2 separate regions of the Homo sapiens genome follow, and region 2 is linked to region 1. The links come from fine-mapping of genetic effects on plasma protein levels. Region 1 holds a variant in brackets. A gene starts in the other region. All regions are shown on their reverse strands.

Region 1 (11,296 bases):
AGAGATTACATGGTGAGAGAGGAAGCAAGAGGTGGGGTGGGGTGTGGGGTGCCAGGCTCTTTTTAACAACCGGCTCTAGCGGGAGCTAATAGAGTGAGGAGTCACTCATTACTGTGAGGATGGCACCAAGCATTCATGAGGGATCTGCTTCCATGACCAAAACACCTCCTATTAGTTCCCACCTCCAACCTTGGGGATTAAATTTCAGTGTGAGATTTGGAGGGGTCAAAGATCCAAACCATGGCATTCCATCCCTGACCCCCCAGATCTCATCCTTCTCACATGCAAAATACAATCATCTTTCTCATGCAAAATACAATTCCAATAGTCCCTAAAATTCTTAACTTGTTCCAGCACCAACTTAACGGTTCAAAGTCTGAGACTCAAAGCAAGTTCCTTCTAGCTATGAGCCTGTAAAACCAAAAACGAATAATTTTTTTCCAAGATACAATGGTTGTACGGTCATTGGGTAGACATTCTGTGACTGCAGCAGCCAGGATGTCGGAGCAGCATGTAGGACGTTCCAGGACTCCTTGAGGTGTGCCAGGCCAGCTGTGCCCCGGGCCTGTCTCCCCAAACCATGCTGTCCTCCTAGGTCTCTGGGCCTCTGATGGGAGAGACAGCCTCAAAGATGTCTGAGATGCCTTCAGGGTCTTTTCCCATTGTTCTGACTATTAGCACCTGGCTCCCTTTTATCCATGCCAACCTCTTTAGCAGGTGATTGCTCCCCAGCACCATTGGCTTTCTTTACTGAAAAATGCTGTTTTCTTTCACTATCACATGACCAGGTTGTAGATTTGAAAAATTTTTCTGATCTGTTTCCCTTTTCTCTACCAATTCTACAAGTAATGCACTTTGAACAGCAAATGCAACAGACTGAATTACCATCTTCCTTATGACATTGATAGTCTAGTGGTATGATGATGGTGATAGTTATAATTATGGTAGATTAAAATAATTAACAAGTACTGAGCATTTAGTTTGTGCCAGGTACCGTTCAAAGTGCATTACATTTTGTTCAAAGTATATTTGTTGAAGCAACAGAGAGCTTCTATGAGGTGGTTTTCTTTTTCTTTTCTTTTTTTTTTTTTTTTTTTGAGACAGTCTTATTCTGTTGTCCAGGCTGGAGTGCAGTGACGTGACCTCGGTTTACTGCAACCTCTACCTTCCAGGTTCAAATGATTCTCGTGCCTTAGCTGCCTGAGTAGCTGGGATTACAGGTGTTTGAATTACTGCTTAGCTCTTTCTGAACTGCACTGGCTTTGGGTAAGTCACTTATCTTTTCTGCCAGGTTGGAAGAATAATTCTTATCAAATAGGAAATAAATCTGCACATAGTAGTGGCCTTTGCCTCATTACTGGAATGGACCTTCCCTCCATAGTGTTAACAGAATAATAAAAGATTTCTTGACTTTTAGGAAAGGAAGTTGAATGTGGGAGGTATTACTATTTAGCCTTGCTTTGCATGGGGAATCTATTATCTAGAAGCAGAAAGTTCTGTAATATTTGGAATCAACCACAAGGCTATAAAGTACTGGGAGGCCAACAGATTTAATGTCCAGTGAGTCTTTCAAGACTGTGCAAAGCAGATCTGGGAGCTGGTCTTATCTTCTCATATAAGAGGATTGTAGGCAGTGACTTCCATTCTAAATCTTCCTTGCTGGGATTTGCAGTCCTGGGATAAAAGGTTTGGCATTATTGGGCTGGGCGTGGTGGCTCACACCTGTGGTCCCAGCACTTTGGGAGGCTGAGGCGGGCCTCCCAAATCTCTGGATCACGAGGTCAGGAGATCGATACCATCCTGGCTAACATAGTGAAACCCTGTCTCTACTAAAAATACAAAAAAATTAGCTGGGCATGGGGGCAGGTGCCTGTAGTCCCAGCTGCTTGGGAGGCTGAGGCAGGAGAGTGGGGTGAACCCGGGAGGCAGAGCTTGCAGTGAGCCGAGATCGTGCCACTGCACTCCAGCCTGGGCGACAGAGCAAGACTCCATTTCAAAAAAAAAAAAAAGGTCTGGCATTATTGGAAGTGAGAGAGATGTCTTGAGTACTGTCCTGCTTAATCAAAGACTGTTACATGTGATTAATTGAAAGAGCTCTGGACTGGGAATCAGAGGTTGGGTTTTGATACCAATTAATTGTATAGCCTTACATTTTTTGAGTGTTTTTCTTAACTTGTCAAGTGAAAGGGTTACCTGGTTATTCTTAGGGATCTAAGGGCTGCTCCTAGTCTACAGTAGTGTGATGTTTGGATTACATGCTGACTTATTATGTGTACAATAGAGAAATTATGCAATTATCTTTATATTTAAGCAGTGCAGTAATTTCAGTTTTAGACATAAAGCCAATTGGATTTTTTTTTTTTTTTTTTGAGACAGATCTTACTCTGTTGCCTAGGCTGGAGTGCAATGGTGGTATGATCTCACTCACTGCAACATCCGTGTCCTGGGTTCAAGTGATTCTTGTGCCTCAGCCTCCTGAGTAGCTGGGATTACAGGCGTGCGCTACCACGCCCAACTAATTTTTGTATTTTTAGTAGAGTTGGGGTTTTGCCATGTTGGCCAGGCTGGTCTTGAACTCTTGGCCTCAAGTCATCCGCCCACCTTGGCCTCCCAAAGTGCTGGGATTATAGGCGTGAGCCACCGTGCCCGGCCAGGATAGTTTTTTTTTTAAATGAAACCAATGAACTATTAATTTTACTGAATTTGAAATTAAGTTTGTAAACTAAGAAGAAATTCATATGAGTTGTATGTTGTCAGAATTTGTAAGGATAGAGTGAAAACTTGGAGCTGTCCATCTTTGTAGGACATATCAAATGAATGAAGTGACTTTTTGGTGAGGAACGATTTTTTTTTTAACTGGTACATAATAATTGTACATATTTATGGGGTATGTGTGATATTTTGGTACATGTTTGTAAAGTTCAAATCAGGGAAATTAGGATAGAGGAAGGAGTTTTAAATTCTTGGGTTTTTCTTGGGTAGAAAAATGGAGTTAATTATGCCCACATCACAAATTGATGTGTGGATTACAAATGATGATTATATTATAATAAGGCCTATCACTGTTCCTGGCATGTAGTGTTTATGAAGTGATAGTTCTTATTTATTATGAATAAGTTCTCACAGTGGGAAGGAATGAGAGAAGGATGGAGAAGTGCTTGGGAATGCAGTTAGGGGTATGTAGGATGAATGAGAATAGTAAAAGTATGAGGATAATGAGATCAAGGATGCAAATGCATTTTGGTGACAGGTTGGATGGTAATAGTATGGCCAGAAATGCAACCACTGGGAAGGAAAATCAGTTTTCTGGGGGAAGACAGTGAATTATTTTGTTCCTCTGGAGTTTGAAGTGCAGTGGTGCAATCATAGCTCGCTGCAGCTTTGAACTCCTGGGCTCAGGTGATCCTCCTGCTTCAGCCTCCCTGGTAGCTGCCACCAAGCCTGACTGATTTTTTTACTATTTTTTTTTTTTTTTTGTAGAGACAGGATCTCACCAGCTGACCAGGCTAGTCTTGAACTCCTGGCCTCAAGCAATCCTCTGGTCTTGGCCTCCCAAGTGCTGATAATACAGGTGTGAGCCACTGCACCTGGCCTCTTTGTCTTAAAAATGACTTAAAAGTGCTCAGAGGTGGCTGCTGTAGAGTGGGCAAGTCCTAAAGGTGGCCATGCTGCTGTGCTGTACCTTTAGCCAGTCTTCTTCCCTGTCTCCCAGAACTTTCTGTAGCTCTTACTTAGAAGGCATGAAAATTAACACTTTCCCTTTAGTTTCATGATTGATGTTAACCAGGCTATTCTTAGTATATTTCAGTTTTCTCCTTTCTTTCTCCTTTATTTATTTGTTGATTATTTGCATTTCCTAATGTTAAAGATACTTCCAGGCGGGGCGAGGTGGCTCATGCCTGTAATCCCAACACTTTGGGAGGCCAAGGTGGGTAGATCACCTGAGGCCAGGAGTTCAAGACTACCCTGGCCAACGTGGAGAAACCCCATCTCTACTAAAAATACAAAAATTAGCCTGGCATGGTGGTGGGCGCCTGGAATCTCAAGTACTCGGGAGGCTGAGGCAGGAGAATCGCTTGAACCCGGGAGGCAGAGCTTGCAGTGAGCCGAGATCATACCACTGTACTCCAGCCTGGGTGACAGAGCGAGACTTTGTCTCAAAAAAAAAAAAAAAAAAAAAGGTACTTCCAAACTTCCAATTTACAATTTCTCATGCTTTTCTTCCTTTCTTGAGGAATTTTGGGAATCTCACACTTCCAGAAGTAAGGTGCTCAGTTGCATTAACCATTCCTGTATAAGCTTAATACATAGGAAATGAGTGAGTAAAACATGTCTGAAAGGTAATCCTATAGGATAGAAAGCTGATTATCAGTAATGTTCTTGGCAGTGGGGCACCAATGTGCCAAACCTAGTCTTTGGCAAGCTAGTAAGCAATTTTCCTGCCAA[A/G]ATCTTGTGACTTACCATAAGTAGTAACCCAATTGTTTATATAAATTTACTCATTGAAATGACTCAGCTTTCCAGGATATTATTTTGGCATTTACTTATGTAGAATTGAGTTACATAGACTTGAGGTTAGATGATTTTATATGCAGTGACGTTCTTGGCTGAAGGGTATTTACTTCATTTGTTTCAGACTGTTCATACTGTGCCTTTTAAACAATTTACCACATGTGATTCTAGGGGAATCCTTTCTCAGATCTTCATACTAAGTTCTTTTAAACTTAAGAGTGAAAAAATAAAGGTATTTACTAGGGATTTATAGAAAGTATTTCTTTATACTGACTAATTACACTTGGGAAAATGAACCACCAAAGCTTGGTTGTATTATATATATATTATGCTTGAGCATTTGGTTTGATTGTAATGTGAAATGAATTGCTTGATCATGTTTAACAAAAATATGTTCCTTAATGCTGAGTGAAAAAGCCTCTAATTGGCACTTTTAGAAATCTTTTAAAATCAAAACATGATTTTTCTATGTTTCTTAGAATGGTACTGTATTTCTATCACTTTTCACAAAAGTTAGATTTTTAGTATTGCTTTATTCGAACTATATTTTTACATCGGTTCTTTAAAAATGATGAATTGGAATTTTGCAAGTATATGCAGACACTAGTAGTATTTTTTGGTGATCAATATTGATAAACGTGTTTATTGTAGTTTACAGTGGAATCCTTCAAAATGGAAGCTTTGTTGCAAGAGACCTGCAGGACAAAATGCAAGTGTGGCATATATGCTTGTTGGAGTAAACCCAGTCAAGGAGAAAGACAGCAGAAACCCTGTTTGTCAAGAATTGTGGGAGGCCTGAGATTTTACCTTACTTGCAGGCTAACAAGTTAGCTTCTTAAAATTCCACGGATGATGGCAGAAGACACAGCACTCCTGGGTCAGCAGGCAGTATGAACTTCATGTTTGTGACAGCTCTGTTTGTATAGTATTTTCTTGCCCCTCAAAGACCATGTGGGTAACACGGTGGCTGGGTGGGTCTAGGTGGATGTTGCCCATGCAGTGGGTATGCACCACAGTTGAGAAAATCTGAGATTGGGAAACCCCAATTTTTTATAAGGGAACTAATAATCCTGCCCAGCCTTTGCTTTGAGGGAGACATTATTTTTATTATTCTGCATAGCAAACAAATCTTCCATCTGCTCCAGAGAGAAACACTATTGCTATCTTAAAATGCTATCTACAGATGTCCTGTACAGGAAAGATAGTAGCCAATAAAAGCTGTCAGTGCAATCTGCTCATAAGACATGCAGAAACTGGAGAGACCCATAGAGAACTGGCTCCCAACACCATTTGTTTGCCTTGTTCCTGAAACTTACCAGATTGGCAACACAGACCAGTTTTCCTCTTTTTTTTTTTTTCTTATTTTTTTTATTTTTTTTTATTTTCCAGAAAGGGTCTTGCTCAGGCTGGAGTGCAGCAGTGCAAACACAGATCACTGGAGCCTCAACCTCCTGGGCTCAAGCGATCCTTTGGCCTCAGCCTCCCGAGAAGCTGGGATCACAGATGTGCACCACTATGCCTGGCTAATTTTTGTATTTTTTTTTTTTGTTAAGATGGGGTCTTGCCGTGCTGCTCAGGCTGGTTTCAAACTCCTTGGCTCAAGCAATTCTACCATCTCAACCTCTCCAAGTGCTGGTATTGCAGGTGTCAGCCACTGTGCCTGGCCCCAGTTTTCCTCTTATGTCTCCATGCAGACTATGGGGAGCTCCAGCTTTGCATTTGTTTTCTTTTTGCTTGAAGAACAAAATGATAAGACCTGGATTTGGGTGCTTAGTATGGAATGAATTAGGCATTGTCCCTGGGGGAGGCATTTTATATTTCCCTGTATGTATAGGCATGGGAAGTATAGTAGGTTTGATTTTGTTGGAATGTTTAGTAAGTTTAATCTGATAGATTAGTCTCAGTTGGCCTGAAGAAGTCTAGCTCAGAAGGACATTTTTCCAGCCCTGAAGAAGAATATGCCTGCTTCCCCATCACCCCTAAGGGGATGATTCTAACTCTGTTGGCTGTGGCACCTTTGTGTACACGTATCATCACTTGTTTTTTTGTTTTTTTGTTTTTTTTGAGATGGAGTTTTGCTCTTGTTGCCCAGGCTGGAGTGCAATGGCATAATCTTGGTTCACAGCAACCTCCACCTCCCAGGTTCAAGCGATTCTCCTGCCTCAGCCTCCAGAGTACCTGGGATTACAGGCATGTGCCACCACGCCCGGCTAATTTTCTATTTTTAGTAGAGACGGGGTTTCTCCATGTTGGTCAGGCTGGTCTCGAACTCCAGACCTCAGGTGATCCGCCCACCTTGGCCTCCCAGAGTGCTGGGATTACAGGTCCTCACTTGTTTTTAATTTACTCACTGAGTGACCGTAAACTTCTTGCATTAATTTCAATGCTTTCTCTTTTTTTGCTTTAAAATTGTACCTGATGTAAACTCTCATACCTTCATTTAGAGATTACTCCTATCATTTTTGAGAATGTTTCTCTGGTGTCTACCATATGCTAATAGGGCCTGCCCTCGAGGTCAGAAAATTTATGTCTTTTCAAATCTTGTAAGTTTGCTAGGATTTTATTTTTTTTATTTTTTTTGATACGGAGTTTCGCTCTTATTGCCCAGGCTGGAGTGCAGTGGTGCGATTTTGGCTCACTGCAACCTCCGCCTCCTGGGTTCAAGTGATTCTCCTGCTTCAGCCTCCTGAGTAGCTGGGATTACAGGCACCCGCTACCATGCCCAGCTAATTTTTTGTATTTTTAGTAGAGATGGGGTTTCACCACGTTGACCAGGCTGGTCTCGAACTCCCGGCCTCAGGTGATCTGCCTGCCTCGGCCTCCCAGTAGGATCTTGTTTTGATTTTCATGAATTTTGATGTTATCATTGAAATATCTAGAAATCTGCATATTTTATTTAAGAGAGTCTGCTTTTTGTACACAAGGAATGCTTGTTCTTGGTGAAGCCTCAGGTATGATGGATAGGAAGGAATAAGAAAGCTGTTTGAGAGGAGAATAAAAGGACTTAGCTACTGATTGGATTGTTGGATTGGGAAAGTCAGGAGAAGTAAGGGTTTTTGTTTTGTTTGTTGTCTTTATTTTTATGGTTGATACCAATGACATTCAGTTTGTGTAAATCCATGAGGACAAGACTGTATTTTACTGCTGTATCCCTAGTGCAGTGTCTGAAATATGGTGGGCTCTCAATAGATATTTATTGAATGACATCTGGAGTTCATACTTCCTCAGAAATCCTGGAGGAAATACACTGCATATAAGAAGGAATGGGAATGTAGATGTGCAGTGTATCATACTTTAGAGCAGGATCGACAAACTGTATCCCCTGGACCAAGTCCAGCTGCCTCCTGTTTTTGTTTTTGTTTTTCGAGATGGAGTCTCCCTCTGTTGTCCAGGCTGGAGTGCAGTGGCGCGATCACTGCCCACTGCAACTTCGGCGCCCCCCACCGGGATCAAGAGAGTCTCATCCCTCAGCCTCCTGAGTAGCTGGGACTACAGGTGCCTGCCACCATGCTTGGCTAATTTTTGTATTTTTAGTAGAATTGGGGTTTCTCCATGTTGGCCAGGCTGGTCTAGAACTCCTGACCTCAAGTGATCTGCCCACCTCAGCCTCTCAAAGTGCTGGGATTACAGGTGTAAGCCACCACGGCAAGCCCTGTTTTTGTAAATAAAGGTTTGTTAGAGCATAGAACACCTGTTTACTTATTGTTTCTGGCTGCTTCCACATAGAGTTAAATAGCTGCAACAGAGACCATGTGGCTTTGAAAGCCTGAAATGTTTACTCTCTGGCCCTTCACTGAAAAAGTTTTCTAAGGTTTGCTGTAGAGCTCTCTTCCTTAGGGTGGATAGTGGAATTGCTACTGATCATAGATGATATCTCCAAATGAGAGAATGTGGAGACAGAAGGATGAGAGTGAGGAGGAGGAAAATGTTTGCATTTCAGGCTTGGAAGAGAAGGAAGCTAGGGAGGGAGGGGAGAGGAGAGAGAACAAAAGTACTGAGTAATATCGTGGAATCTGAGGGAGGCCAGAGATGTTTTTGTTGTTTTGGTGGTAACATGTAACATACAATTTATCATTACTGACATTTAGTACATTTACGAGGTCGTACCTTCTTTACCACTCTAGTTCCAGAACACTTTTTGATCACTCCGGAAGGAGAGCCCATACCCATTCATCAGTCACTCCCCATCCCCTCCTTTCCCAGCCCCTGGCAGCACAAATTTACATTCTGTCTTGTATGTTTTTCCCTTTGCCTTAGATCTGGGAAAGGTTTTTTTTCGTCATGGTGGGGAAATGGGCTTCTGTGCAGTCAGGGGAGAAGCCGATGGAGGAAAGGAGTAGTGTGGTTATGGAAGAGGCTGAAGGGGAGAAGGTCGCGGGCATCTGGAGGCCTGAGATGTGCATGAGCATCCAGTCCTGCACCGGCGCTGGTGCTGCAGTGGTGCCGTCTCTGTCACTGCAGTGCTGTTCTCTGAGAGCTGTTCCGCAGCGTGATTTTGGGTGCTGTTCCTCATTATGAAGCCTCTCAGTCATCTTCTTCAGTCTGCACTGTACCTTTCATAGATTTCTGATTCAATTAGCTGCAGATTGGTTTTTGTGGCTTCCTACCTGAACGAAGATAGAAAATGATGATATATATGATGGTGGACGGTAAGATGACAAACCAGTTTTGAAGTCCTCTAAGAAACATGAAAGTGGATGTGAGTGGTAGATCACACCAGTGAGGTTGTGATTTTGATTAGAGTGTTGTGAGTAAATTTCATGGGCCATAAGTGCTGACAAACAAAGATTGTTATGGTTTGATGTTTCAAAAGGGGCATCAGGAATTGAGGATAAAGTGTTTGTTGTACCCCCTTTTGGGGTCTAGGAGAATGAATGAGTAAAAATCCTGAATGTCAGTAGCTCATGGAGTGTTAGATTTTACATAGACTGGTAAAAACCTGAGATTGATATATGGTGGCTAGGTTATTTTGAAAGTAAGAATCTTAGGAGTAACAAATTGCTGTCTGCTATCACAGTATTTAAAAAAAAAAACCCGTTTTACACACCAAAATGTAAGAAGAACATGCTCCCAGAATAAAGAACACTCACCAAATTATATACTTTTGACTATGTGAACTACTTTTTCTCATTTCCATTTTTTTCATTTTGCTAAAGAACGGGTTAAAAATGTGTCATGGATTGGCATTAGTCCATACAGTACATTTGGGAACCACCTATTGAATACTATTAAAAAAATTTCATTTGTCCAATTTCATTTGTTCAGATTCTGAAATGAAAAACAATTTCATTTATCTGATTTCATTTGCTCAGAACCGAAATATGAACTTCTTGGGGATAGGGATCATGTCTTAAACCTGTGGTGACCATTTTTTTTCTTGACTCCAAGGTAGGACACACGTTATCTCATATATAAATGATCTAGAGTGGAACTGAATGTTGGAAACCAGGGCTGTCTGGAAGAATTTGGAGTTACTATACTTTATAATACTTCATTCTTCCTGGTACCCATTTGATATTGAGCACCATAAAAGGTGCTTGGTAAGCATTCGTTTGTTGGTTGTTTCAGATTTCATTTTAACCACTTCCTTTGGCATGCTGAGCAAATTCCTTAGGCTTTTTTTTTGGAGACAAGGTCTGGCTCTATTGCCCAGGCTGAAAAGCAGTGGAGCCATCTCAGCTCACTGCAACCTCCGCCTCCTGGGCTCAAGCCATCCTCCCACCTCAGCCCCCTGAGTACCTGCGACTTTGGGTGGGTTCTACCATATCTGGCTACTTTTTGTATTTTTCTTTTTGTAGAGATGGGGTTTTGCCACGTTGCCCAATCTGATCTCAAACTTGTGAGCTCAAGCCATCCGCCCACCTCAGGCCTCCTAAACTGCTGGGATAACAGGTGTGAGCCACTGTTCCTGGCCCTTGGGCACTTTTCATACCTCACAAAGAATATACTAGCAGAACTTAGGAGTCAAGATACCCAGGGAATCCTTACAGCTCTGTTTCTGCAGCTCTCCCTAGTCTCTGAGTGTGCTTGGAAGGAATATTCAAATCATCATTGTGTTGTTTCAGGTTTAACTTGGGAACTTGAAACTGAAATCAAGTTTTGGGGACCTTCTGGGTGGTGACAGATCTTGTTGTTTTGACCAGGCACTCTTTCTTGTCCCCCTGTCCTTATAATGTTGACTTAGGCATCCTGCTAGCTTTGTGAGTTGGTCAACCCTGGGTATTAGGGGAAGGAACGGGGGGGGGGGGTGGGAGGGGGGAAGAGAATACTAAATGCATTAAGTGAATTTCTCAAGGTGGATGGGAAGGTTTTGGGGTTTTTTTTTGAGGAGAAGTAATAATACATAGTAGATTTTTGTTAAAGTTTTGCTTTTCTACATTTAAATATAAACCTTGAAAAGGAGAAATAGGAAGAGTTGACCAAGTATTGAAGTCCCTTTTTTTTTCCTTTTGGCTTTTTTATGGACAACGGTGGTTTTTAATTTTATCCCTTATCAATTTTGCTATTTTGACTAATTTAGTAAGTTCAAATTATTTAAATTTATGTAGTATTTTCTTTCCATTGAGTTGTCTTTTAATATTTACTGTTTGAACATATAGGTTTTAACCTATTTAAGCGTTACCAAAAGTTTATACTATTGCCAGATTGTTACTATGGAAAATTTCATTTTAGTTGCTAAAAACAAGGAAGTATTTTATCTAGGCCAGGGAAATAATTGGGAGCCCAACTAGAAATCTTAGCAGATTCTCTATATAGGACATCGCTGTTAGTGGAGGGCTTAGGGATG
Region 2 (11,296 bases), not on the chromosome of region 1:
CTGGAAACAGGGAGAAGCCAGGCAGCAGGAGCAGGCGCTTTGAGCCTGTGGGGGCCGGGGGCCTTCCAGGCCCCCCGAGAGCACAGGGATGCCCCGGTCTGCAGCTACAGCTGGGTGGCTGCTGATGTGCCTGGGAAGGCAGGGCTCCCCACCCTGCCAACTCAGAAGGGGCAGGGCTCCCGTCTGTTCCCAGCCCCTCCAGGTCCATGAAGGGCACAGACCCGGCCATGCTTCCCCCACTGCAGCTGGTGTCTTCACAGCGACCACTCCAGACGGGCCACTGCTGCCATCACTGGGACATCCCCCAGCTGTCATCCTTGTAATCCCTCTTGGGTTTCTCCTGATTTGGATTCCCCACATCCTGGATCTCTTGTCTTCCTCCTCCTCAGTTTACACCTTGTTTAGGTGAAACACATCTTCCAGTAATCTGGCCAGGTTAAAGAGCTAGTGCAATGACAGCACAATCACGACAGTCCCAGCTTTCCTATCTCTTGAGTCACAGTGTCACAATGAGCACTGACTGCCCTCTAGACTTGGCGCACAGTTATCCTTCCAGAATGTCCCTCACCATCAGCCTCAAGCTTTCCTTCAGTACTCCGCCATGTTCCACGTCTGCATTTCACAGACCACAGCTTGTGCTTTCTTGATTTTTTACTCTTTTAGCTGAAGAGCATCTTTCCTCTGGTGGTTTTCCAACAATCACGCATAGGGAGTACATTTTTTTCTCTTTTGTAGAGATGGGGTCTCACTGTGTTGCCCAGGCTGGTCTCCAACTCCTGAACTCAAGGATTCCTTCTGTCTCAGTCTCCCAAAGTGTTTCAATTACAGTCATGAGCCACCATGCCTGGCCAAATGTTCTGAGAACTTTCAAGCATGAAAATGTCTGGTTTTATTTATTTATTTATTTATTATTTTTTATTTTTTAGAGTCAGGGCTGCCACGGTGGCTCACGCCTATAATCCCAGCACTTTGGGAGGCCGAGGTGGAGAGATCAGGAGGTCAGGAGTTTGAGACCAGCCTGGCCAACATGGCGAAACCCCATCTCTACTGAAATACAAAAAATAAAAAATAAAAAAAGAAAGAAAAAGAAAAAGAAGTTACCTGGGCATGGCTGTGCCTGCCTGTAATCCCAGCTACTCAGAAGGCTGAGACAGGAGAATCGCTTGAACACAGGAGGCGAAGGTTGCAGTGAGCGGAGATCACACCACTGCAGTCCAGCCTGGGAGGCGATAGAGTGAAACTCTGTCTCAAAGAAAAAAAAAGAGTCTTGCTGTGTCGCCCAAGCTGTAGTGCAATGATGCAACCTCAACTCACTGCAATCTCTGCCTCCCAGGTTCAAGTGATTCTCCTGCGTCAGCCTCCCCAGTAGCTGGGATTACAGATGTGTGCCACCATGCCTGGCTAATTTTTGTATTTTTAGTAGAGACGGGGTTTCACCACAATGGCCAGGCTGGTCTTGAACTCCTGGACTCGAGTGATTGCCTGCCTCGGCCTCCCAAAGTGCTGGGATTAGAGGTGTGAGCCACCACACCTGGCCAAAAATGTCTGTATTTCACTTTCACACCTGACTGAGAGTGTGTGGCTATTGCTGCTTACTGACCAGCACCCTTCCCTCTTCCTTTCACCATGCCCAGCCATGACTTCTAACCTTAGAAAACTGTCCCCCTTCCAGAGAGTTGATAAATGTCCAATTCAATTTTTTTTTTTGAGACAGAGTCTCGCTCTGCCACCAGGCTGAAGTGCAGTGGCGCGATCTCGGCTCACTACAACCTCTGACTCACAGGCATGAGCCATGGCACCCCGCCCCAATTCTATTTTTGAAGGGAGGGACTGATTATTTTAAAAACATGGCCGGGCATGGTGGCTCATGCCTGTAATCCCAGCACTTTGGGAGGCCGAGGCGGGTGGATCACCTGAGGTCAGGAGTTCGAGACTAGCCTGGCCAACATGGCGAAACTCCATCTCTACTAAAAATACAAAAATTAGCTGGGCATGGTGGCACAGGCCTGTAATCCCAGCTACTAGCGGGGCTGAGGCAGGAGAATCGCTTGAACCTGGAAGGCAGAGGTTGCAGCGAGCCGAGATCGTGCCACTGCACTCCAGCCTGGGAAACAGAGCGAGACTGTGTCTCAAAAAACAAAACAAAACAAAACAAAACAAAACAAAACATAAAAATCTTTCTGGATTGTAATGCCCTCTTCATTTGTTTGGTGGGTGGTATGAGGAAGGGGCCCATTCTCAGCCCTGGGTCCGTGGGCTCCAGGTACAGGGACATGGAGGCGAGGTCTGGGTTCCCGATCCTCTAATCGCTGGCGTGGCTGTGCCTTGTTCTTCAGGAGCCCAAGTTTCCCTGGCGTCCTCGCTTTCTGATCTGCATCTTTTTTTTTTTTTTTTTTTTTTTTGAGACAGAGTCTCGCTCTGTCACCCAGGCTGGAGTGCAGTGGCGAGATCTTGGCTCACCGCAAGCTCCGCCTCCCGGGTTCAGGCCATTCTCCTGCCTCAGCCTCCAGAGTAGCTGGGTCTACAGGCGCCCACCACCGCGCCCAGCTAATTTTTTGTATTTTTAGTAGAGACAGGATTTTACCGTGTTAGCCAGGACGGTCTTGATCTCCTGACCTCGTGATCCGCCTGCCTCGGCCTCCCAAAGTGCTGGGATTACAGGCGTGAGCCACTGCACCTGGCCCTGATCTGCATCTTGACTTTTGTCACTTTCTTGATTTTAAGGCAGAGACACCCTTAGAGGAATGGGCTTAAAAGGAGGGTTGGGGAGCAGACACCAAGGAACACACAGAAAGGTGCCAAGAGGAAATAGTTACCTGCGAGGCTCTAAGACTGCCTCTGAGATCCCATCAGTGACCTGACCATAGGGTGCTGGAGAAATGTGGTCACCCAGACACTTTGAAACACTTTCCGTGGTTGATAATTATTATTCTCCTTTTTTTTTTTTTTTTTTTGAGACAGGGTCTCACTGTCTCCCAGGCTGGAGTGCAGTGTTGCAATCTCGTGTCATTGCCATCTCCGCCTCCCGAGTTCAAGTGATTCTCCTGCCTCAGCCTCCTGAGTAGCTAGGATCACAGGTGCCCGCCACCAAGCCCGGCTAATTTTGTATTTTAGTAGAGACGGGGTTTCACCATGTTGGCCATGCTGGTCTCGAACTCCTGACCTCAGGTGATCTGCCTGCCTTGGCCTCCCAAAGTGCTGGGATTCCCGGTGTGAGCCACTGCACCCAGCCCGTCGCGGTTTATAATTAGAGATTTCTCTGCTAAATGATGTTCTCTCTCTCACACTGAGGTGAGGTCTGTTTGGGTCACCTTTGTATTCCCCAAACCGGGGACAGTATTGGGCTCAAATCTGCTCAGAAATGACTGACTGACTGAATGAATAAATCAATACATGAATGAATACGTTTGGAGTCCCCTCTTCCCACTCCTCGCCCTCCCTCCTTCCCTCCAGACCCCCAGGGGCTGCCCAGCCCGCCTCCCACCCCCGACCCGGGAACTCCAGGGACTGGACGGGGAGGGAAGGGTGGGAGGAGGCGGTGGAGGCGGAGGCGGAGACGCGGGAGGGCGGGGCTAGGGAGGGCGATGCGGGGAGCCGGAGCCCGGACCATGAGGCTGGGAGCGCCCCTTCTGCACCCCTGGCCGCCCGCGCCGCGCCCCGCGCCCACCAGAGGGCAGCACCACGACGCGCGCGGACAAGGCTGAGGCGGGAACGGCCGCACCCCCAGCCCCGCCCGGAGCCGCCCGGCCCCGCCCCGCCCGCGAGTACCGACCCCCGGCGCCGGCGGGGAAACAGGTCCGGCGCCCCCGACCCCACGGCCCGGCCCCACTCTGTCTCTGACGTCAGCGCCGTGCCCCAAATAACTTCCTCCCCGAGCCTCTTCCGCCGCGGCGCCGCGCCCAGAGCCAGGCGGGGACACCGAAACGGTAACCCCGGCCCGGCCTTCCCGGAGCCGCTTCCGCCCCGCCTGGTGCCAGGAAGCCCCCGCCCCTTCCAAGGGATGGCAGCCGGGGCCCGGGTCGGCCGCCTGGGCCGCGCTGGCGCGCGCCTGAGGAACTTCTGGGGCCTGCTGTCCCGGGAGGAGGGTCGCTGCGGCCAACTCCGGACCCCGCCCCATGTCCCATCGCCTCCCCTGCCCTCGGCCCCGCAAACACCCCTGGCCTTGACTTTCCCACCAGCGCGGCCCAGCCCCACTGTGTTCCATCGGCGCTCAATAAAATACTGAATGAGGCCGGGCGCGGTGGCTCACCCCTGTAATCCCAGCGCTTTGGGAGGCCGAGGAGGGCGGATCACGAGGTCAGGAGATCGAGACTAGCCTGGCCAACACGGTTAAACCCCGTCTCTACTAAAAATACAAAAAATTAGCCGGGCGTGGTGGCACCTGCCTGTAATCCCAGCTACTCAGGAGGCTGAGGCAGGAGAATGGCTTGAACCTGGGAGACGGAGCTTGCAGTGAGCCGAGATTGCGCTCCAGCCTGGGCGACAGAGCGAGACTCTGTCTCAAAAAATTAAAAAAAATAATAATAATAATAATGAATGAAGCTGGACGGACTTCGCGTGCACCGCGGTCAGCTCGGGGTCTGCTGGGGGGTCTGGGTCAGCTCAGGGTCCAGGAACCGAGGCCAACGGCACCCCGTGCTGCGCTGGGGTGAGGGGTCTGCCCTGGGGTCTCGGGGTTCAGGGCTAGGTCACGGAGGAGTCGGCTCTGGGCGCTTCCTTCCTGAGGAGAGGAGCTGGGCAGGCCGGGCCGACGGGTTGGGCCGCATAGCCGGGCCTGTGCTCATCTCCAGCATAAAACTCCACTTCATGGAGCCTGCACCTCGCTCGTGCTCCAACGCTTCTGCCACCGCCGACCACGGCCCTGCGCCCCAGCCAGGCCTGAGGACATGAGGCGGCCGGCGGCGGTGCCGCTCCTGCTGCTGCTGTGTTTTGGTGAGTCGTGAAGGTGCAGGGTCCTGGTGGTGCAGTCCCCCACCAGGCTCCGCTGCACTGCCTGGGGCTCCGGCTCAGCCCCCTACTCCCTGGGACAGGCTGGGGCTGTGGGACAGGCCATCATCCCTCCTGCCCCTGAGCAGGTGGGAAGGCTCCAGATGTGCCAAGTGGGGAGTCCAAAGTGGGGAGGCAGGGTGGGAGGTGTGCGCACAGGCCCCAGAGGACCCCACCGGCATAACTGGGCAGCACCTCCTCCCATGCCTCTCCGCGGGCACTGGTGTGCCAGCTCTGGCCAGGCTCCCTGCTTCCTGCCACCTCGGCCTCTCCCCCCATTCTCTAGGTGAGGACAGGGGCCTCCTACGTGCAGGATGTGAACTCAGGCTCCAAGTGCCTGGACCATCATACTCGGGGTGGGAGGGTGGCCGAGCCGAGGGCTGCTGCCTGTGCCCGGAAGCCCCAGCAGGCTGGCTGCAGGCTCAGTAGAGAGCTGGGGGCAGGGGGTGTAGGTGGCAGAGGGCCCTGTCTCCTGCTGACAGAGGAACCGGTGATGCGCCACCGTGCCCTCTCCCAGTCCTGGGTCAGGGACAGCAGGTGCCAGCCAGGGGGCCCCACCTGCCAGGCCCCTCCCTGCGGGCCGGGACACTCTCTGTCAGGGAAAACCTCTCACATTCCTGGGCTAGCCTAGCCAGTCTGGCAGCCACCACACTTCCCTGTCCTCAAGTCACCTCCCAGGGCTGGGTCAGGTCATCCCAGGCTGCAGCTTAGCCAGTACTCCAGGCTTCCTTGTTCTCCTGGGTGGGAGGGCACCAGTGGCCCCTCAGTGGCCCGGCCTCCCCCACCCCATGCCCCCAGTCTCCCAGCACAAGGATGGTGCCCTCTGAGCAAGCCATGTGCACAGGAGGTGGAAGGCTGTGACTGCCCCTGAGCGGGGTGAGGAACCAAGGTCATTGCCAAAACTCTTTGGCAATGAGTTTTGCAGTCGGTTCACTAACAGCTGTGACCAGAGGCTGGACTCCTGGACACGTCCTCACTCCCAGCCCGAGGGTGGCACTCCCACCAGGTCTCTGGCTGGTGGTACCCACTAAGCTTCACCATCCCCACCAGCTACCAGCGAATCACAGGCCCAGGCCCCAAACAATGCTCCTGACACCCCCGGCACCCCTGGCTGTTGCTTCCAGCCCCCACAGGGCGCCCACCCTGAAGGGCTCAGCTGTCCACATCCCCCATTTCCCATCAGCCCCCACAGCCACACTTGTGTCCATCCACACATTCCCTGAGATCAGGCCCCCCAGATGCAGCCCTTGCCTTCTCGGAGCTCCTGGGCTAAGATAAGACTTGATTCTGGCTCCAGGGTGATGTAGACAGAGCTCCCATCAGGACAGAGAGCTCAAGAGAGAGTATAGGGCTTCCAAGGTAGACAATGCAAGCAAGCAAGGAAGGCTTCCTGGAGGAGGCAGCATTCAGTTGGGCCTTGATCTCTAGATCACGATTAGGACTTGGCTGGGAGCGGTGGCTCACGCCTGTAATGCCAGCACTTTGGGAGGCCGAGGTGGGCGGATCACGGGGCCAGGAGATCGAGACTATCCTGGCAAACATGGTGAAACCCCTCTCTACTAAAAATACAAAAAAATTAGCCGGGCTTGGTGGCGGGCCCCTGTAGTCCCAGCTACTCGGGAGGCTGAGGCAGGAGAATGGCGTGAACCCAGGAGGCGGAGCTTGCAGTGAGCTGAGATCGCGCCACTGCACTCCAGGCTGGGCAACAGAGTGAGACTCCATCTTAAAAAAAAAAAAAAAAAAAAGACTAGGACTTATGGAGACTGGGGGAAGGGCATCCAGATTGTGGGGTGAGGGGAGCAAGCACTCAGAGACCAGAAGACTCTGCCTAAATGAGAAGTACAGGGCTACTTTAGGAAGGAAGGATCTGCATGGGGAGGAGGCATCGCTGAAGGGGCAGTGCTCAGGCAGGGAGCATGGAGACACAGCTCCTGCAGACTCCCAGAGAGCGAGAAGGCCTGACAGTGCGCGCCCTTCTGCAAGCAGGATCCTCAGGCTTGGAAGGAGCAAGGGGTCGGGGGGCCAGGGAATAACCCTCCCGGTAGTGTTTGCATTTTAAAGGGCACTTAATTAGCACAAATTAATGAGCAGAGCATCCAGGGCAGACTCTCCATTTCCCGTTGCCCCTGACCCCGCTTCTGCAGGGCACCCCTTTGCCTGCCCTGCACCTTCTCCACCTCCTCCTCCTGCCCATCCACAGCTGCCCCCTCGCCGCCCGCTGCCTTATCGTCCAGCAACCCCCGGGGTGTCTCTGCCCACCAGTGGTGTTGGGGAGGGTGCCCCCCAGACTGTGAGGCAGACAGAAAGGAAGAGGATGCCGTAAAAACCCTGGGGGTGCTTGGGCCCTCCATGGCCACTTCCTGTCCCCACAGCCCCTCAACTCCAGGGGACTGGTTATCTTTTCCGGGCAGAGTGAAGACATGGTCCATAGCAGCTGGCCCGGGCACCGGAAGGCACTGGGGGTTAAGGGGAAGCTGAGGGCCTAGGTGTGGGGAGGTGGCTGTTCTAACCCCTCCCCAGCTACGGGCGAATCTTGCCCCCACAGAATCAGACGCGTGGAGTGCAGGGGTGGTGAGAGGACTCTCTCAAGGCCAGGAAGTTCCAGGCTTTGCTACCCTGGGGCTGTACACTATGGTCCTGGCTGGGGTCTCCAAGCTGGGGTAGAGGCTCCAGTGTTTGGTTAAAGGCCCAGCAAGAGGCCCTTTGTGTCCTGGGGTGTGGGAGGCAATGGACAGCAGAAAATATGTTCCCATCCTTGGTTCCCCCGAACGACCCCATATCTTGCTTCTCTTCCGGGCCCCTCACTTTATCCGCTCCAAAGCCCCCTTGCACAGCCCAGCAGGGGGTCCTGGGCCTCGTCTGCCAAGCCTGCTGCATGCCTGGGAGAGGGGTCAGCTCTTGGGACTCTGGAATCTTGAGAAGGCTGATCCCTGGTGGCCAATGCAGACCACTGTACCTTCTCTACTCCCCTGAGGCCAGGGAGAAGCCTGTGGGGCTCGGGCCTCAGCCTCGGGACCAAAGTGAGACTTGGGGAAGGAGCTCATTCCGGAGCAGACTGTGAGAGAGCCCTGGGCAGCTCAAATGTAGAGACAGCTCCCGGGCCTCTTCCGCTCTGAGCTGTTCCGGGAGGAAAGGCCAACCTTACAGTGCCAGGGCTGGAGGCTGGACCCTCCCCAGAAACTTCCAGACAAGGATGGGTGTGGAGTGTGGAGGGAGAGGACCCTTTCCAGGATGAGAAGGGGACATCTAGCCTGGGGATCCCTTCACTGGCATCTCCTGACCGGCTCCCCATGTGGCAAGGAGCATCCACCCTTGCAGATAAGCTGTGGCCCATGGGCCTGGGCCTGAGCATACGGCAGAGCCAGCCCTGGGGGGGAAACTGCAGGCCCTTGGGCTCTCCGGTGAGGTCCCTCTGTGGACTGTCCCTCTGGAGTCCTCAGGAGCTGGGGAGGGTCAGTGGAGAGGGGCTGCAGGGTTGGGGAGGGCAGGCCAGGCTGCAGCTGGCCTGGCTGATCACCCTCTCCTCACTTCCAGGGTCTCAGAGGGCCAAGGCAGCAACAGGTAAGCACCCAGGGCCCTGGGGTGGGAGGGACAGGAGCCGGCTGGACTGAGCCAGGGACACTCATGGCCAGAGGGAATTTGGAACGCACAGGACACTGGGGAATTCCAGAGGAGGGGAAAGTGGGGGCTGTGTGGAACTGGAGCCCAGAAAGGAGAGGAGGAGGAAGGTCCACACAAGAGCAGGACGGGCAGCACAGAGCCTTGAGGCGCGGTGCAGGATGAGGGCGGCAGGGTCTGAGGATCACCCTGAACCGTGACTGGCCCCCTCTGGGTGGCTCCCTTGCAGAGGGCTTGACACCTGTTCTATCCTTCCAGGCACCTGTTTGGGTCAGGCCCTGGGACAAGACCCTTCCCTGGGTTATCTCAGTGCCTCCGTGGCCCCCAAGAGGCAGGTGTTAGGTTGCCTTTCTCGGCGAGGAGAGTGAGACTTTGGGGGGCAGCTGGGGAGGGTCTGCCTGTATCCCAGACTGCCCCGAAGCCCAGGCCTCCGACTTCCCCAAGGTCTTCGGGCAGGTCAGGGGCAGGAGGGCCGAGGACTGGAGTGTGAGGCTGAGAGCTGGGCCTCGGCCATGGAACCAGCCCCAGTGAGCGCCCCCACCCGCTCCCCATGCTCCCCCAGCCTGTGGTCGCCCCAGGATGCTGAACCGAATGGTGGGCGGGCAGGACACGCAGGAGGGCGAGTGGCCCTGGCAAGTCAGCATCCAGCGCAACGGAAGCCACTTCTGCGGGGGCAGCCTCATCGCGGAGCAGTGGGTCCTGACGGCTGCGCACTGCTTCCGCAAGTGAGTCCGCCCGCCCCTGCCCCCGCCCATAGCGCTGACAGCGCCCCGCGCGCGACCGGTTCAGCACCGTGGACAGCGCCCGCCGCGCCAAATCCTGCGGGTGACCTCCCTGGGGGCTCCTGGTCCAGCCCCTCCCACCCAGATGCTTCCCTTAGGTCCAACTCCAGGGCTAACTTCCAGTTGCAACCGCTGCTCCCGCCCGCGGGAGGTGCCTCGCACCGCCCCCCGACCCCCTCCATCCCCTCCACCCACTCACCCACTCCCTGTGGGTCCCTGCAGAAGCGGCCCGGCAGGCTCTGCCCACCGGCCCCTCCTGGCCTTTCCCCATCCCGCACACACCTCAGCTCCAGGACACTCTTCCCGGGAGGAACTCTGCTCACAAAGCCCAAGGACCAGACAGAACGGCCCTTCCTCCCCTCACCCACCTGAACCACCCCAGAAAGCCCTGAGCAGAGGCCAGGCCACCCAGCCCTCTGCCATGTATGAACCACCTGGTCCCACACCTTCCGGGTGTCCCAGGCCCCCTCACCTCACACCTCAACACCGCAGCTCTAATTATTTTAAACCCCACATCTTTTTCTTTTTTTTCTTCTTGATCTTTAAAAGAATATCATGACAAAAAAAACCCCACATCTTAAATTCAGATACTCACGGCCAGGCACGGTGGCTCACACCCGTAATCCCAGCACTTTGGGAGGCCAAGGCGGGCAGATCAGTTGAGCCCAGGAGTTCAAGACCAGCCCGGGCAACACAGCAAGACCCTGTCTCTACTAAAAATAAAAAAAAATTAAAAAACAAAAAACAAACAAACAAAAAAACCCCAGGTGCAGTGGTGCCTGTGGTCCCAAGTACTCAGGAAGCTGAGGCGAGAGGATGGCTTGAGCCCAGGAGTTGGAGGCTGCAGTGAGCTACAGTTGCACTGCTGCACTCCAGCCTGGGTGACAGAATGAGAACTCTGTCTCTAGGGGAAAAAAAAAATCGGAAACTCGGGCTGAGAGAGGGCAGGTCACCTGCCAGAGGCCCGCAGGTGGGGCTGGCCCTGCTGCACCTGGAGGGTGGTTCTCTCCGAGCCAGCCTTTCAGGTAGGCACTGTGACTGTCCCCACAGCACAGGTGAGAAAGCTGCATCACAGAGAACTTGTTAAGTGACTTGCCCAAGGCCACACAGCGGCCAGGGGTGGAGGTGGAAATCTGAGTCGGGCGGTCTGGCTTCAATGTCAACACGCATCACCGCTGCACCTGGCTGTCCTAGAGATGACTCTCGAAGACATTGTGCAGAGAGAGGTGTGGGGCACGGTGGTGGCCAGAGGAGCCCCAGCCCCTCCCGGGCCTGTCCCCACACGAGGGGCCGCCTCACGCCGCCTCTCTGTTTCTCCCGCCAGCACCTCTGAGACGTCCCTGTACCAGGTCCTGCTGGGGGCAAGGCAGCTAGTGCAGCCGGGACCACACGCTATGTATGCCCGGGTGAGGCAGGTGGAGAGCAACCCCCTGTACCAGGGCACGGCCTCCAGCGCTGACGTGGCCCTGGTGGAGCTGGAGGCACCAGTGCCCTTCACCAATTACATCCTCCCCGTGTGCCTGCCTGACCCCTCGGTGATCTTTGAGACGGGCATGAACTGCTGGGTCACTGGCTGGGGCAGCCCCAGTGAGGAAGGTAAGGGGACAGGGCTGGGAAAGAATGGGGGATATGCCTCAAGAAGGCCCAGGACGGCTTGGGGACCACTCTGAACCCACAATCTTCCTGTTGCTATATTAATACATACACACGGTCTCTGTTCACACAGGTGGGGCCGAGGGGAGCAGCAGCAGACCCAGAAGGAAGAGGGGGTGAAGGGAGAGGGGGACAGAAAGGGCCCAGCCTGCTGCCTGGAAGGAGGGAGGATGTCTGCCCCACAGTGCCCTAAGCCAGAGATGGTCTAAACATGAGGAAACGACAGGCAGGATGGAGTGGTGGTTCCCGGGGCCGTG

Alleles and levels. Positions count from the first base shown, and alleles are read on the strand shown. Strength reflects both the effect of a copy and how common the allele is.
As copies of A replace G in region 1, the plasma level of the protein whose gene starts at base 4,823 in region 2 goes down (weak association).

Evidence for each region. PIP is the chance, under the fine-mapping model, that this variant and not a neighbour inherited with it causes the effect. The UK Biobank Pharma Proteomics Project read protein levels with antibody pairs (Olink). The fine-mapping took linkage between variants from a reference panel, not from the people measured, so its PIPs are less certain.
Region 2: PRSS27 starts here. The variant in region 1 is fine-mapped to the plasma level of the PRSS27 protein (UK Biobank, PIP above 0.99).

What each region holds. Positions count from the first base shown.
Region 1 is chr6:2,230,403-2,241,698 of GRCh38, reverse strand. The region is part of intron 1 of GMDS (GDP-mannose 4,6-dehydratase); the gene reads left to right. It overlaps LOC107986512 (a long non-coding RNA gene), which reads right to left and starts at 10,331. Exons shown (of 2, transcript XR_007059405.1): 1 at 10,249-10,331; 2 at 7,388-9,116. The variant A/G (reference allele first, on the strand shown) is at 4,447.
Region 2 is chr16:2,713,751-2,725,046 of GRCh38, reverse strand. It overlaps PRSS27 (serine protease 27), which reads left to right and starts at 4,823. Exons shown (of 6, transcript NM_031948.5): 1 at 4,823-4,932; 2 at 8,521-8,547; 3 at 9,167-9,329; 4 at 10,711-10,982. The coding sequence starts at 4,887. RefSeq lists silencers at 2,440-2,609, 3,293-3,362, 3,493-4,252, 9,107-9,156, 9,237-9,286 and 1 more and an enhancer at 3,986-4,553.